Linked DNA regions of Homo sapiens. The protein of the gene in region 2 purifies or fractionates together with the protein of the main gene of each other region. This does not show direct contact. Each region holds a gene or a part of one and is shown on either strand. Other genes may lie near its edges.

Region 1 (7,491 bases), on a different chromosome or scaffold from region 2:
TGCTTTTGAGAGTAAGCTCTGTGGAGCCAAGTGTTGGTATATCACGGTGAGCAATCCAAGATCTTGAAGAGCTTGTTAAAATAGTTATCTGGTGGGGGACACGTGTAACAATCACAGCAGTACAATATGATTTGCTTGGTTAAAGGCATGTTCAAAGTACTAGGAACATACAGAATGAGGAGGAGCTAGCATAACCTGTAGAGTCAGAGAAAACCTCATTGAGGAGGTGACATTTTGTGATAAGATAATAGGGTCTTTGACACTTAGAGAAGAGTTGGGAGAAGAGTTTATCACCTGATGAAAAGCCATGTACAAGCATGGCTATGAGAAAATTTGGCCAGCTCAGGAGAGGGCTGGTTGTTGCATGTGTCTGGAACACAGGATCTGTGTCAGGTGCAGCAGTGGCAGTTGATAGTAGGAACTGAGGTCATTAAAGGACTTGGCATGTCATGCTAAAGAGCACCCTGTTGGAAGGAGATGGGGTGAATAAACCCTGGGGCATTGAGGACTGGCTGAGACACAGAGAACAGTTAGTGCACTGAAATAGTTCAACTGTGAGAATTTGGTAACCACCTAGTTAAGGGATGAGCCTGAGGTTTATTTGATAACTAAGTGACTTAATGGATGTACTGGTAAGAGAGAGAGGAAACATGGAGCAAGTTTGAGGGGAAAAACAGTGACTCCGTTTGTGCAGCTAATTGCATATGTGGGCTTGTGGGTCTTTCATTTATTCATAAACGTGTTGAGAAATACCTGCTACCTATCTAGTAAAGTAAGAGATGCATCCTCTCTTAAAGGCAGTCAGCTTAGAGTCTGGTGATTTGAATTGACATGTCCACTGATAGATGTTGACACTGTGAGACTGGCGGTTCAGTTTGAGGTTTCATCAGCATTGCCGATATTGGAGCCATGAAAAACCAAAGAACAGCCAGTGAGAGAAGAGATCTCAGAGAAAATAAAATTGAGAAAGTGAAGGACAAAAAATGTTGTGAAGATAGACCAAGATTGATGGAATCAGCCATAGAGAGGTCAAGTGGGATGAGAATGAGCACGCATCTGTTAAACTTTGTGCTTAGGAGCAGAATCTAAGGGAAGGGACAGTCCAGAGGTTAGAACTCAGGGTAAGATGGAAGAACAGGGGCATCTGGGAGTGAGGCAGTTTGGTTTAGTGTAGAACCTTTTTGTAACAAGCATTCCCTTCTGTCTAGATGACTTTTAGATATGTTTCATTGGCTTGGTACCTTTTAGAATAAAATGATTTAGAGGATCTCTCATTTTCAGGGAAAATAAATATATTCCTCCTGGACAAAGAAATAGAGAAGTCATATCCTGGGGAAGTGGGAGACAGAATTCACCGCGTATGGGCCAGCCTGGATCGGGCTCCATGCCATCAAGATCCACTTCTCACACTTCAGATTTCAACCCGAATTCTGGTTCAGACCAAAGAGTAGTTAATGGAGGCAAGTATTTTGACCAGACTTGTCAATATCATTGATAAAATAGTTTTCTAAATACTTAAAATACTTAAAATAGTTTACATAACTGATATGAATGTGCACTTTAATGATTTGGTGAGTAGCTTTCACTTCAGCATTACTTAAAATTGGCTTTTGTGGATATTAAATTAGTAAAACATTGTATATGTCATTGACATATATATTATTTAGCATGATGAAATATTCATGATGTACTAAGATAAAGTGCTACATTTAACCCAAGACAATCACTTGGCCAAAAACACTTCACATATAAAGAAATTGGAAACTTTGGGTAGGTTCTCAATTTTAAAAACACTGGATAATAAAATTTTTTAGACATAATTTATATGGAAAATTCTAACCTATGTGCAACACTGTGGTTAATATAGATCAATTTTCATTATTTGTTTCTATATTATGCTTACTTCAAGAAAGGATCTGAGGTAACTTATAATACAAGACATGATCAAGAGTCATGTGAAGAAAGTGACTAGAGAAATTTGCTTAAAAAACAACAAAAACAACCCTTAGTCTAAGGGTGGATGTTACAGTTTAGCAACTTAAGTAAAAGAAACCTGAATCTTTAGTAGGAAGACATTTTTTACTCTACCTCTAAATCTAGGTTGAATATATCTTGTAGGTTGTGGATCTTTTCCATAAATCAGGGATACTGAACAACAGTTCTATGGATGGTATGGAAATAGTAATAGCAATAGTATGTTACTAACTTTGTGGGAAAAGAGTGGACATTCAATTTTAGCTATTTAAATTTGGAAAGTTAGATGAAAATAGAGAACACTAAGTTTCCAATTTCATTTGTTTTCATTGAGTCTTTTCTCCAGAATTCCTCTCCAAATGGACACTCTTGAGTATTTTCAGTACTTAATATTGGGGGTGAAATTTCTTTGCTCACTGAGGAAAGATTTTAGTTGTTTATAAACAGAATTTTAAAGTTAAAAAACCTGAAGGGGGCTGAGAAATATATGATACTTAAGTGTGTGGAACCCTATGGAGAGGAGACCTGGACTGTTTGATAAGATTAAGGTAAGTGATATGTAATGTTAAATACTAGCTGTATCTTTACCTAGGCATATCCATCAGTATAAATTTATTTGGTGATGACTGCTTTGTAGTTGCAGTATTTATTAAGCAGTCGCTTAGATAAGTGTTTAACTGTATAAATTATTTAGAAGGTCTCCCTTTTTCTAGTTTAATGAGGTCAAGACTTTTTTTTTGAAATAGCAATGAATATTATCATTTGATACTCACAGGAGTCACAAACTCTAGAAGAGTAATGTTTTATTTCTACTTAAATGGGACTTGCTTAATAAGATTCCAAACTGAGTTCTGGGTTCAAGTGTAAACCTGATGAAAATCATAGATAATTGTAAGGAACCAGCATTTCTAATTGGATATAATAGCTACTGCTTATTTTCGTTATGCCTCAGAGTTAAAACTAATACAGTAAATAATCTTACTCCTGAGTAGGAATTATTGTGATTTATTATGTGAAATTATCTAGTGTATGTTATATTCCTTTAAACAACCAGTTACTGAGAAACAGTTATAGAAGCAGGATTAATAGGCAAAGTCTTAACTGTCTTCTTCAATAGTGTGTATAGATCCTAATTAACCCTTTGGGAACGTGTATTCATTTAAACAGACTTAATCTTAAGGAGGTTAAAGTAAAATGTGAATTTATGTCAGTTAAGTTATGCTAAAACTTATCACAAATCAAATGACTGTCCTCAAAGGGTTAAAATGTACAAGAAATCATTTTTGTCATTTTACTTTTTTTCTGTTTACTTTTTTCCCTCATTTTTTTCTTTAGTTTTTATACTTTCCTTCATATCATTTGTTCTGTCAGGTGTTCCCTGGCCATCGCCTTGCCCATCTCCTTCCTCTCGCCCACCTTCTCGCTACCAGTCAGGTCCCAACTCTCTTCCACCTCGGGCAGCCACCCCTACACGGCCGCCCTCCAGGCCCCCCTCGCGGCCATCCAGACCCCCGTCTCACCCCTCTGCTCATGGTTCTCCAGCTCCTGTCTCTACTATGCCTAAACGCATGTCTTCAGAAGGTACAATACCACAATTTGTTCATGTTTTTGTTTGTCTTTGTTTAACTCCTATGTGAGTTTATAATTACAAAATAGTTTCCTCTTCATTATTTAATAACCTATAATTTCTGTGTTTTAACTTTAGTTTATTAAAACTATTTCTATTAACCTTTTGTTCATTAGAGAGAAATTTGATAAATGTGTGAAGCTATAAACTCTCTTGAATTGTTGTTAAAAAGGGGGTTTATCTCTGCCTGATAATTATGCTTCTTTACAGCCCCAGAAGGGTCTGCCCCACAGCCTTCCCCCTCCTTATTTGCACTGTATACAGTAGTTAAACAAATGAACTTTCTTCAGCCAGTCTTGAACTTAGGTTCATTTTACAGCTCTTTGGCCAAGGTCCTAGTGAACCTTCCTATTGGCCATAAGCAGGGATGGTGTTTTCTGGGTCTTTTTTGAGAGCGACAGCCCATGTAGCTGACTTTGCGTGTCTGCCCTTAGATTAAAGTAGTTGATTTTTAGAATGCCAGAAGAATTCTAAATTTAACTGAGTAATTTTTTTAAAGTTAGCTTTGCAATCTTACATAGTGAAAGGCTGCTTTAATCTGGAAGAAGTCCTTGATCTGAGATAAAATTGATAAAAACGACATATGAATTTGAATATTTAGCTATTTCTTTCCTCGTCAAAAATAAGAATAAAATCTTGTAATTCTTATTCAGTATTTGGCGCTAAATCCATCATTGCCACATATCAAATACAGGGATATGTTGTAGAAAGGTAACATTCTAATTTAAATGCCACCCATATATTAAAAACCTGTTTTCTGAATCATAATGTCCTTTTGATACTAGTTCTGAATATTTGTGTTAAAATTTTAATCTGATTTGTTCATTAAAATTAGTTAATATTGCTTATGTTGGGACTAATAAAGTTTTCCGCACAAAATGTGTTTCTCCTGCTTCCCTGGAGAAAACTGTATTGGCTACTTTTAAATAAATTGTTACCATCTAAGCAGGCAGGTCATATGACTTTGACTGAAGCATCTAACCTTGAAGAGCAAGTTCCACTGATTTTCAAGGTGACTTCTTTGCTCAAAAGGGCCTTAATAGTGGTCACTAAATGCAAAATTCTGTTGATATTTTTCTTGTAGTCCATCATTTGAGTAAGCGATGTTTATTTAATGAGAATATATTAAATAAAACATGATCATTAATGACTGTGAACATCTTTATTACATTAAGATTTAAGGACTGCTCATGTATTAACTTCACACAGAAATATACTTTCTGTGTCATTCAGAGATGTTGAATATTTCCATTTGAAAATTATAGTGTATAACATTAGCATTCTTCTAAAGATCATGTTCGTGTTTAAATTCCTGTTGGAAGCCAGGCATGGTGGCTAACGCCTGTAATCTCAGCACTTTGGGAGGCTGAGGCAGGTGGATCACTTGAGGTCAGGAGTTTGAGACCAGCCTGGCCAACATGGTGAAACCTCGTCTCTACTAAAAATACCCAGCTACTTGGGAGGCTGAGGCAGGAGAATCACTTGAACCTGGGAGGCAGAGGTTGCAGTGAGTTGAGATCGTACCACTGCACTCCAGCCTGGGCGACAGAGACAGACTCTGTCTTATAAAAATAAAAATAAAATAATAATTCTATTGGCAACATATATTAATTTGAAGTTCTAAAGAGTTTGGCAGCCGGGTGAGAGAGTGAGGAGATTTGGCTTTGACATTAGGGAAGTTTTCGCTTGGTGTTAACACCAGTAGGCTTCTCTGATGAGGGCCATTCTGTCCACTCTTTTACCTGATAGATTGGTCTAATGCACAGTAGACTGATTTAGAAAGAGTAGTCACTAGTGGCATGGCAGAATCAATAATGTAGAATTTTGACAATTCATATAGTGCTGATTTCTCCCCCAAATGTCAGTTATTTTGGTCATCTATTAATAGACTAATACAAGTCATCCCTTTAATAGAATTTTCAGCTCACAGCCTGCTAAGCCTAAGAAACTGCTTACAGGTTACTGCTTACTGTTTTAAGCCGAGTTTTAAAATTGATGATCATGATAGAAGAGATAAATAAACTAAAATTTTAGAGAAATTTAAGAAGGGTATGTACATATGTTTTAGTGGTATCGGGGTGTATAGGGATTAATAGTCTTCTGTTTAAATTTTTTTTTTCTAATTTTAGAAGTAATGTAGAAAATTCGGGTCAGGGAAAGGTAAAATATATGGAAAGTTAAAAATATTTTATCATGTAGTCATAATTTCTAGTAACATATTTCTTTACAAATAAGACATAGTTGAAACAGATTGCTACAGTTCTTTTAAGAGTTGACATCTTATTGTTGATTTCTTACCACCAACTTCATCCCTCCCTTTCTTTAAAAATAAAGGGAAATAATAAAATTTATTTATAAAACTTTGTGGCATTCCACAAAATAATTCTGAAAGAATTAGTATGGCCAAAAAAATATGTATGGTGTTTTTTTTTTTTCTATTTTTAACCAAGGAAAAACTGTAGAGTGAGTGAGTGTGTGTGCATGTGTGTGTGAATGGGTGTATTTAGCAGAAAAGTAGTACTGATGAATATCATGGAATTTATGTGATGTTCACTGTTTCTTCCTTAGGGCCTCCAAGGATGTCCCCAAAGGCCCAGCGACATCCTCGAAATCACAGAGTTTCTGCTGGGAGGGGTTCCATATCCAGTGGCCTAGAATTTGTATCCCACAACCCACCCAGTGAAGCAGCTACTCCTCCAGTAGCAAGGACCAGTCCCTCGGGGGGAACGTGGTCATCAGTGGTCAGTGGGGGTAGGTAACACTTGGGCATAATGATGGTACTCATTTTGTCATTACACTAGATATAAAGAGGGCTGAGCTACAACTCTGTTTGAGGAAGTGTAAGTATGTATATGTTAAAAATAGTAGAATCACCAGGAATTGGGAAACCCATATTTTTATTCTGGGCTCTACCACTTATTCATCATATATTAAAGCAAGTCAGACACTCATTCTGAAGTTGAGATTTCGCAGTGAGTAAAGTGTTAATAATTCTTGCCTAGTCTACATTATGGGATTGTGATGAGATTCCTATAAGGTTCATAAATACAGATATATTGTAAAACTATAAAGTTTTGTAAAGTACCTCTCTAATATGAGGCAAACACAGTATGTAACACTATTTGGAGGGACCGTATTTCCTTATCTTTTTAGCAGCTTTGTTTATCAGTACATTCTATAAACATTTATTTTTGGCTTACATTGTAGTGTGTTTCTATAGCATCTGTATATGGCACTAATTCCCAACTATATTTCCATAATAAGGAATATCAAATACAAATAAAGGGTCCAAGTTTTATTTGTGATTAGCATAAGGAATATGCTGACAGCAGCTATAAAAGTATAAAAATTAGGCTGGGTGTGGTGGCTCACGCCTGTAATCCCAGCACTTTGGGAGGCTGAGGTGGGCGGATCACAAGGTCAGGAGATCGAGACCATCCTGGCTAACACGGTGAAACCCCGTCCCTACTAAAAGTACAAAAAAAATTAGCCGGGCATGGTGGCGGGTGCCTGTAGTCCCAGCTACTTGGGAGGCTGAGGCAGGAGAATGGCATGAACTCGGGAAGCGGAGCTTGCAGTTAGCTGAGATCACGCCATTGCACTCCAGCATGGGCAACAGAGCAAGACTCTGTCTCAAAAAAAAAAAAAAAAAAAAAGTTTAAAAACTAGACGTTGACATGATTTTACAATAAGGCTGACTGCTTTTGCTACTTTGCCAATCAGTCCTTAGTGCTTTGTTCCCATAACTGTGGTAAGCAAGAGCTTACAAAGAATACTTAAAACAAACAAACAAACAAACAAAAAAAACACTTTTTCTCTTTTAATCAGTCCAGAGAACCTTTAAAAGAAACAAGATCGGCCAGTTGCTGTGGCTCATGCCTGTAATCCCA
Region 2 (8,489 bases):
AGCTAATTATACTGTAACTTATTTCAGAAATAAAACTTAGGTTATCTTTTCTAAAAATTTTCCAGAAAACAACTAGATTATGTTTTTATTTTGAGATGAGGTCTTGCACTGTCACATAGGCTGAAGTGCAGTGAAGGCACAAGCCACCAAACCTGGCTTTTTTTTTATTTTTTATAAAATAGCCAGGGGTCTTACTATGTTGCCCAGGCTTAGTTAGGTTTTTAATGACTTCCTTTAAAAGTAAAAACTTTCCAGTTAACCATTTATATCATTTTTATAAATTTAATGCCAGTTAAGACTAGTAAGACATTCTAGTACCAAAGAAACGTCAGGTTAGGTTAATAAATATTGGCAGTTAATGAACTGGCGCATCTGAATCCTAATCCTTTGTAAGTGATTCCAATATAATTTTAAAAAATTTAAAAATGTTCAAACATTCATAAAAGATGACAGTCATAATGAACTCCAATCACCAATATTCTAAAATATAAGATTTCTGTCACTCCAAGTAATCTTAAATACATATTATTCAGATTGCTTTACATTCTCTTAAATATTGATAATAATGCTTACTTAAGATGATACAATAAATATGCTTAAGATAATATAATGTTTAGGCCAGGCGTGGTGGCTCACGCCTGTAATCCCAGCACTTTGGGAGGCCGAGGCAGGTGGATCACGAGGTCAGGAGACCAAGACGATCCTGGCTAACACGATGAAACCCCATCTCTAATAAAAATACAAAAAAATTAACCAGGCATGGTGGAGGGCGCCTGTAGTCTCAGCTACTCAGGAGGCTGAGGCAGGAGAATGGCTTGAATCCAGGAGGCAGAGCTTGCAGTTAGCCGAGATCGCACTACTGCACTCCAGCCTGGGCGACAGAGCAAGACTCCGTATCAAAAAAAAAAAAAAAAAAAGATAATATAATGTTGAGAACTACAGGTATGTTAGAGAAATGACAGTTCTCAAACCCTTTAAAATATGATTATAGGTTTATACAGTATATGCAACAAAATGAAAACAAATCATACATAAAAAAATGAGATCACATGTAGTCTGGCATCTAGATTTATAAACTATGTATTATTAGACACTGAAATCAAAAGACTAGGCCTAGAAGTTTCTCCTTGAGTTTCACATTTAGACTTCATTAGTTTATTCAACAAGTAGTTACTGAATTCCTACTGTGTGCCAGGTAAGAGATAAAAGATGACTATTTGCCAGGATCAGTGGCATACACCTGTAGTCCCAGCTACTCCGGAGCCTGAAGTGGGAGGATCGCTTGAGGCTAGGAGTTCGAGACCAGCCTGGTCACCAGAGCAAGACCTCATCTCTTAATAAATAAATAAATAGAAAAGGTAGTCATTTAATTCTAATATTTCTCAGTTAATCCTTTAAAAGTACATTTCAGTTAATTAAGGCTGACTTTTAATATTTGAATGCCACCAAACTAAGTAGTTAAGGTTAAAATTTATAACAGTTTTCAGAAAATCCATGGTTTACATTACACTCTATGTCAAGTAGTTATGTGATTACAATTACTACAGTAACAATTACTTGTACAGTACCCAAAAGAATAAAAAGTTAAAAAAAGGAGGGGGAAAAAAAAAGACAATAATGGGAAGAAACAGCATCCGTGGCCAATTCTTAAGTGACCACTATCCATGCAGAAAGACTACATTTAATAAGGTCTACCCCCTTCCTTTCATTCCACTCATTCCACTACAGTACTATAGTGTCATTTATTCCAGAAAGAAGCTTCTAGGATTTCATTTCCTTTCCCAGTAAAGGGACCCTCCTCAGGGCTCCTCACAGCATATTTTCCCAGTATCCTGTGAACCCCTCTTCCACCTCACCTTGTACTCTAAGGGCCTAACACTGCCACAAAGAAACTGTTCCTAAAAAAGTCCTAATGAATGAATGGTTTCATGTGTGAACAAGCGATTCAGTCTGAGATGTCAACTAAAGAGACTATTTTGCTGAATGACTTTAACATATGCCCTAATGAAAGAAAGAAGCCCCCTAAAGTCTGGAATATTTATAAAAATTCAGAGCAAGTTTCCAAGAAAAGAACAATAGTATTTCACTGTGACAAAGACAGATGATAAGCAAGACTACTTCGTTCCTAAAAATTTCTACTAGGGTAGTAAATTATTCAAATAGGCAGACTTTGGGAATCCTCAAGGTGTTTTTTCCTAAAGAAAGGTTTCTCTCAAAGGTTTCCTTGTCATGGAAAAACCTAAGAGAAAATTTTGATAAAGAACTTGTTACTTAGAAATACAGCTAGCTAAATCTGTACTTTGTTTTGATACCGTACCTGTAGGTAAGTATCTAACCATACAATTTGTTTCTGGAACCACATTTAGCCCAAGAGGGTCCACGTTCTCAAGTTTAATAGAGTACACTGATCTGGGTGACCCAGTGAGATAACAAACCCTATTTCCAGCTTCTAGATACTGATGAATTATGGTTGAATAAATATCAGGAGAAGGAGAGACACAATGCAAAACAAATACGCAGGTTCTTCGTGGGTGAAGACGACCCTGGTCTAATGGGGCTCAACGAGGCAGAGTATCACAGAGTCAAAGCAAACTGCTGGTGGTTCCCAGGGACGTGGTGATAGGTTAGATGCACAAGCGAGCTGGCCAGCGGAACAGATGCAGCGCCCATACAAGTGGCTTAGCGAAGCCTGGGTGCATGCAGAGATGACTGGGCAAAGGAGAAATTTTGAGAGAAGTGGGGTGGGGTAGGAGGAGGGGCTCAAGATGGGAGTAGGAAATTTGGAGAACAAGTAGGAAAGCAGAATCAACTTTGGCAACCTTTAGAGTTGAGGGGTTAAGGGGTAGGGCAGGAGGATGAAGCGAGGAGAGAAGCTCGGGGAGTGGGGGTGGCGAAAATCAGAGCCCAGACAATGACACGCATGACTGACAAACGCTGCGGGTAGCTCGCCTGCAGGGAGCACTGGGCAGGCCTAGGGGTGTTGGGATTGGAGGACCCCGAGCTAGCAGTGCAGACAGTGGACGTGGCATTGGGGGTGCCGGGGCCAAAGGGAAGCGACAGCCAGGAGCCACGGGGTGCGGCGTGGAGAGGCAGGTGTCTCAGACTGGGGCGCAGGAGGTGTTCCCAGGGGGCCGGCAGCGTGGGGCTTGGGAGACCCGTGCCCTGACAATCTTACCCTAGATCTTCCAACGACTCCAAGATGTCAGTCTCCATGAGGTCACACTCCATGCTACTGTGGTATTCAAATTTCCGAGTCGTCAGGCTCCCCTCTTCGCCGGCAACGCGTACACTCGCGCATGCGCGACTTCCCCGGAACTTCCAAATCCACAGCTGGCGCCTCAGCTCCCGCACTGCGCATGTCCGGAGCGTGCGCAAGAAACTTGGTCCCACTGACCGCCCCACCCCTGCCCACTAAAGAATTACAGGGCCCGCAGTTTTGCACATGCGCGTTACTGGATCGTGAAGCTAGCCGCCCAGAGAAGGGTAGGAGGACCGGCTGCGTGGCAGCTGGGCGTGGGGACCACGCGAAGGGGAGCGCTCTCGGCTCTCGTTATTGGGTGTACGCATGTGCGAATGTAGGGGGCGCGGCGGGCCGGGAAGGAGCTTGGAAGAGTCTCGGGACGCGGGTGGAGTCGGCTGTTAAACCGAGTCTCTGCATCCCAGACAGGAGATCGGGTGGCTCTTCGTAGGGTGCCGGCATGTGCTAGCCTTAGCTTGCAGGTCATGTAGAAAGGGAGAATTCTTGCGCTCCCGTCTTCAGGACGCGGGTGCGGGCCAAGTGCAGACGGCAGATAGCGTGCCATTTGATTTCCTCGTGGCTGCAGTAGCTTTATTTCAGGGTTAGGGATGAGCCAACTTTCCGCAGACTATGGATGTTCAGAAAGTTGGGTCGTTTTCCCTCATGCATTCTCTACCTGATGTCTAAAGCCCTTCCCAGACACTAAGCATGTTATTTTAAGGAGAAGGGGAGCTTCACTCCATAGCAAATAGAATAGAATATTTTTAAATCCACGTAGTTTAGACAGTGAATAAACTTTTTGGCTGTACTGTCATTACTTTTGACATTATTTGCCCGGGTGAAACATTGAGTTCACGATGTGGATGTGTTGTGATATCTTGGCAGTTACTGAGGGTGTGTTTAGAAATTACTGAAAAATCAGAAATGTTTTCAAAGTGATGGCATATTTAGAAAACTATATTTAACCATAAGTTGGCGTACTGTTAAATCGTGTAGGCATTTAATTAAAGAGTTTTCATATTGATACCTGTTGATTTTATTCTATAGTTCTCAAGCATTTTTGTGTCTGATGGATAGATGTTCCTATCCTTAGTAGTACCTTTTTCTTTTCTTTCTTTTTTTTTTTTTTTTTTTATGAGACGGAGTCTTGCTCTGTCGCTCAGGCTGGAGTGCAGTGGTGCGATCTCGGCTCACTGCAAGCTCCGCCTCCCGGGTTCACGCCATTATTCTGCCTCAGCCTCCCAAGTAGCTGGGACCACAGGCGTTCACCACCACACCCAGCTAATTTTTTGTATTTTTAGTAGAGACGGGGTTTCACCATGTTAGCCAGGATGGTCTCGATCTCCTGACCTTGTGGTCCGCCCACCTTGGCCTCCCAAAGTGCTGGGATTACAGGCGTGAGCCACCGCGCCCGGCCAGTAGTACCTTTTTCAGTTTCCTTATTTTGCATCATCTGAAGTGGGGGTAGGTTTTCTGCACTTACCATGGGCACTTGATATGGCCCATTATGATGCAGTCACCATAAGGCTGTGTGAATATTAGTCACATTCTACAGATGAGGACACTAAGGCTGAGTGGCTTAATAATCTTCAGCGATCTTAATGCCTGTAAGTATGAAACTAGATTTTGAGATTGAGGTATATCTAAATCCATATTCCTTCTTTTTTGACTAGTCAAATAAGGATTTATACGCAGGATGTGAAAAGAGGAAAATTTAGCTAGTTGAATTTGTTTAAACTTGTATATATTGTACATAATTACCTTATAATAATTGAATAATTATTTTCCTCATAGGGTTGTTGAAGGTGCTAAACAAAAAGTCATGCCTAATACAAAAATCAATTTTGAAAGAAAAAGGGTTTCATTCTTGACTCACTTTTGATGTAAGCTGTGTTCAATATTGAACTAATATTGAATATAATATTGTGTTCAATATTAGTGAATGAACGAGTGATGACTTCCCTAAAAGTATTAGTATTCCCTTTCTTTCTTTAAAAAAAATCCAGCTTTTGCAGGAATAGTATTCTCTTTCTAATTCACATCGTTAGCTTAAATGAAGGATTGCTGATATGAAATTTTTATATATTATGGTTTAAAGGAATTCTACAATGGCTTTCTCTGCAATTAAAAAAAGCTTTTAAATACTACTTAAACAAAATTGTGTTCCCTACCAGGCAGGCTCAGAAAGAAAGAAAAAAAATTGTCATCATTTTAATGGGATCTACGAGGAATCTTTTGCATTTTATTTAGAAATTATTTATGTTTATAATGGAACCTGATATCTGAAGACCTCTTTGAAACTGAGTTTACTAGAATGAAAGGAACAATGATTTGGAAGTGAGGAAGCTCTGGTTTTTGCATCAGATCAGTATAAGAAAGAATTTTTCTAACACTCTAAGAGTAGTCTTAAAGTGACTTAGGTATCGTTGAGAGATGATGAGCTTCCTGTCTAGAAGGTGTTCACCTAGAGGCTGAATAATTACTTAAGGGTACTCTTGTGAGAAGGCACACCCACAAGTGCCAGCACATGCCCTTTTACTGATGACTTTGATTCTAGATTCTTTCTCAAAAAAGAATATAAAATACCAACTTAAAACCCTTCTAGGGTCTGGCGCGGTAGTTCAGACCTGCAATCCCAGCACTTTGGGAGGCTGAGGCAGGACGATTACTTGAAGCCAGGGGTTCAAGGCCAGCTTGAGCAACATAGCAAGACTCTGTCTCTGTTAAAAAAAAAAAAATTAATTAAAAATGACTTCCAGGTGGGACCCAAGTGAGGCAGAGGGGCAGGGGCTGGCAGACCAGCGGTAAGCATGGCATATCAGGGCCTCACCATACGTCTCATTGCAATGAGCGTGTTTTAGGGCTTCACTGGTTTCTTCATGCCTTGGTTCATCCCTAAGGGTCCTAAGTAGGGAGTTATCATTACCATGTAGGTGACCTGTTCAGTTTGTTGCTGTCTCTTTTGGCTGATTGCAATCCTGGCCAACTCAACCCTCTCTTCAGACTGCAGTTGAAACATGAAATCATCTGGTATCCGAAGTGTCATTGGCCTTGAGGAAGACAGGCTTTACAGTGCTCAGTCTTAGCAGTCATGAGAAAAGAATTCCTTCTAGATGCAAAATCCAAACCACACCACTTTTCTTGACTTGCTTATTTTGGGCATCAGCTGCCTTAAACATTCACACCACATTTGAATGTCTAACACAATGCAGCATTTTTTTCTTCAACTTTTTTATGCTTTAATGAATTATGTGCCTACTTAACCTAAACTGTGCCAACTCCTCAAAATGATAATGCACTCTTTTGAGAGAGAAGATGCTTTTCTTCTGAGAAATGTGTTATTATGTCCTTGGAATTTGTGGATTTGTAGTGGCTCCTGCCTTCTCATAACATGGGAATCAGTGAACTATTTAGAACGTACTACTGCCTGACAAGACTCCAGTGGGGCAGTCAGTAGGAGAGGACGTTCAGAGGAAAGAGCTCTCCCAACAGAATTACACCAAATTATGTGTTCTTTTTTTTTTCTTTCTTCCTTTTTAAACAGAGTTTTGCTCTGTCGCTCCCGCTGAAGTGCAGTGGTGATCTCGTAGCCTCAACCTCCTGGGCTCAAGTGATCCTCCTGCCTCAGCCTCCCAAGTAGCTGGGACTGCAGCCGCTGGCCACCATGCCTGGCTAAGTTTTTTTATTTTTTGGTAGAGACGGTTTTGCCATGTTGCCCAGGCTGGTCTCAAAATCTTGGGCTCAAGCAATCCGCCCACCTTGGCCACTGCACCCCGTCATGAGCCACCACATCCGGCCCAAGGTATATTTTCAGCATGAATTTCTCATTTCTGCCATCTTTTGGAATAAATCATTTTTCTGTTTTCTATAGATAAAATAAAATATAAAATAAAGCTATTCTAGTGTCCCATCTTTGAGGGAGTCTGGTTACTGTCCATATTCTTAACTGCTGCTGCTACAGATTACCACAAATTTAGAGGCTTAAAACAAGACAGATTTATTATCTTACAGCTCTGGAGGTCAGACACCTGAAATGGATCTCACCTGGCAAAAATGGGCAGGTTTGCATTTCTTCTGGAATCTCTAGGAGAGAATCTGTTTTCTTCCCTGTTTTGGTTTCTAGAGGCCACCCACCTTCCTTGGCTTATGACTCCCCTCCTTCATCAAGACCAGCAACACCACTCCGACCCCTGCTACATGGTAGTCATGCCCTCTTACCTTCCTGCCTCCCTCTTTTACTTATAAGGACCCCCATCCTTGTGCCAGATAATCCAGAATAATCTCCCAACCTTAAGATCTTCAATTTAACCACACCTGCAAAGTCCCTTTTTCCATAGTCTCATGTTCCAACGATTATGATGCAGATAGTTTTCGGGGGAGGGGGGTCCATACCACACTGCCTTTCCTGGAGAGTAGAAACAATGAATGATCTTAAAGATCAGCCTTTTCTAGCTCTTCTTGAAGAGAATAAAGACAAATTATTTTTTTCACTTGTGAAAGAAATGTAAATGGGAAAATTGAAAACTGATTTCAGTTTCCAGAGGAACATGTTTTATAAGTCATAACCTTAAAAATTATTAGAAGGTTTTTAATTATATAGTAATTAAAAATTTATGCAGCTGACATCTTTAAGAAAGTTACTTCTAGCATCTATAGAAGTAATTTTTTATCATGGAAAAGAGGTAGGTATAAGCTCAAATATAAGATTTGTCATGGATTGGTTTCTAAGAGGTGATTAAATAGGCATCTAAAACAAATAACTTTTCTATCAAAAATAAAAGAACACTGTCTGAAAAATAGCAGCATTTTCCATTTTTAGTGAATTTATCTTTAGAATGACCCTCCAGCAAGGAGAAAATAGAAAGACCATAGATTTACTGGTGTTGCTCAGAAATGCAAGTTTGTATATGTTGCTAAATAAAGTCCTTTTCAGCTTGCACAGTGAAAGCACAACTCTTTTTTTTTTTAAGTTAGCATGTAGAATTAAATCTTGTATGGTCTCAAATACTTTATATTACTAAAGAATGCTGTTTTTTCAAATCATTCCTCTGGCTATGTTAGTATAGTTTCTGAGCCCTGGCAATTTTTAGAGAATATTACAAAGTTTGAGAACAACATCTTGCCTGTGTTTAAACTAAACAAAGGAAGTGCTATGTGTGTGAATGTACGTGTGTATATATATATATATATATATATTCACACACACACATTCACACACACAAATGTGTATATATATACAAAAACACACACA

What was found. Proteins that work in one complex are often made in the same cells at the same time.
Region 1: the proteins of FAM98A (region 2) and ATXN2 purify together in Homo sapiens (co-immunoprecipitation; 4 studies listed by BioGRID and IntAct, with this or other methods). This does not show direct contact.

What each region holds. Positions count from the first base shown.
Region 1 is NC_000012.12:111,512,218-111,519,708, reverse strand, and holds part of ATXN2 (ataxin-2), read left to right. Parts: intron 1-1,281; coding exon 1,282-1,460; intron 1,461-3,345; coding exon 3,346-3,555; intron 3,556-6,169; coding exon 6,170-6,352; intron 6,353-7,491. UniProt on the Homo sapiens protein: Involved in EGFR trafficking, acting as negative regulator of endocytic EGFR internalization at the plasma membrane.
Region 2 is NC_000002.12:33,595,994-33,604,482, forward strand, and holds the start of FAM98A (protein FAM98A), read right to left. Parts: upstream 3,307-8,489; 5' UTR 3,229-3,306; coding exon 3,176-3,228; intron 1-3,175. UniProt on the Homo sapiens protein: Positively stimulates PRMT1-induced protein arginine methylation. Involved in skeletal homeostasis. Positively regulates lysosome peripheral distribution and ruffled border formation in osteoclasts.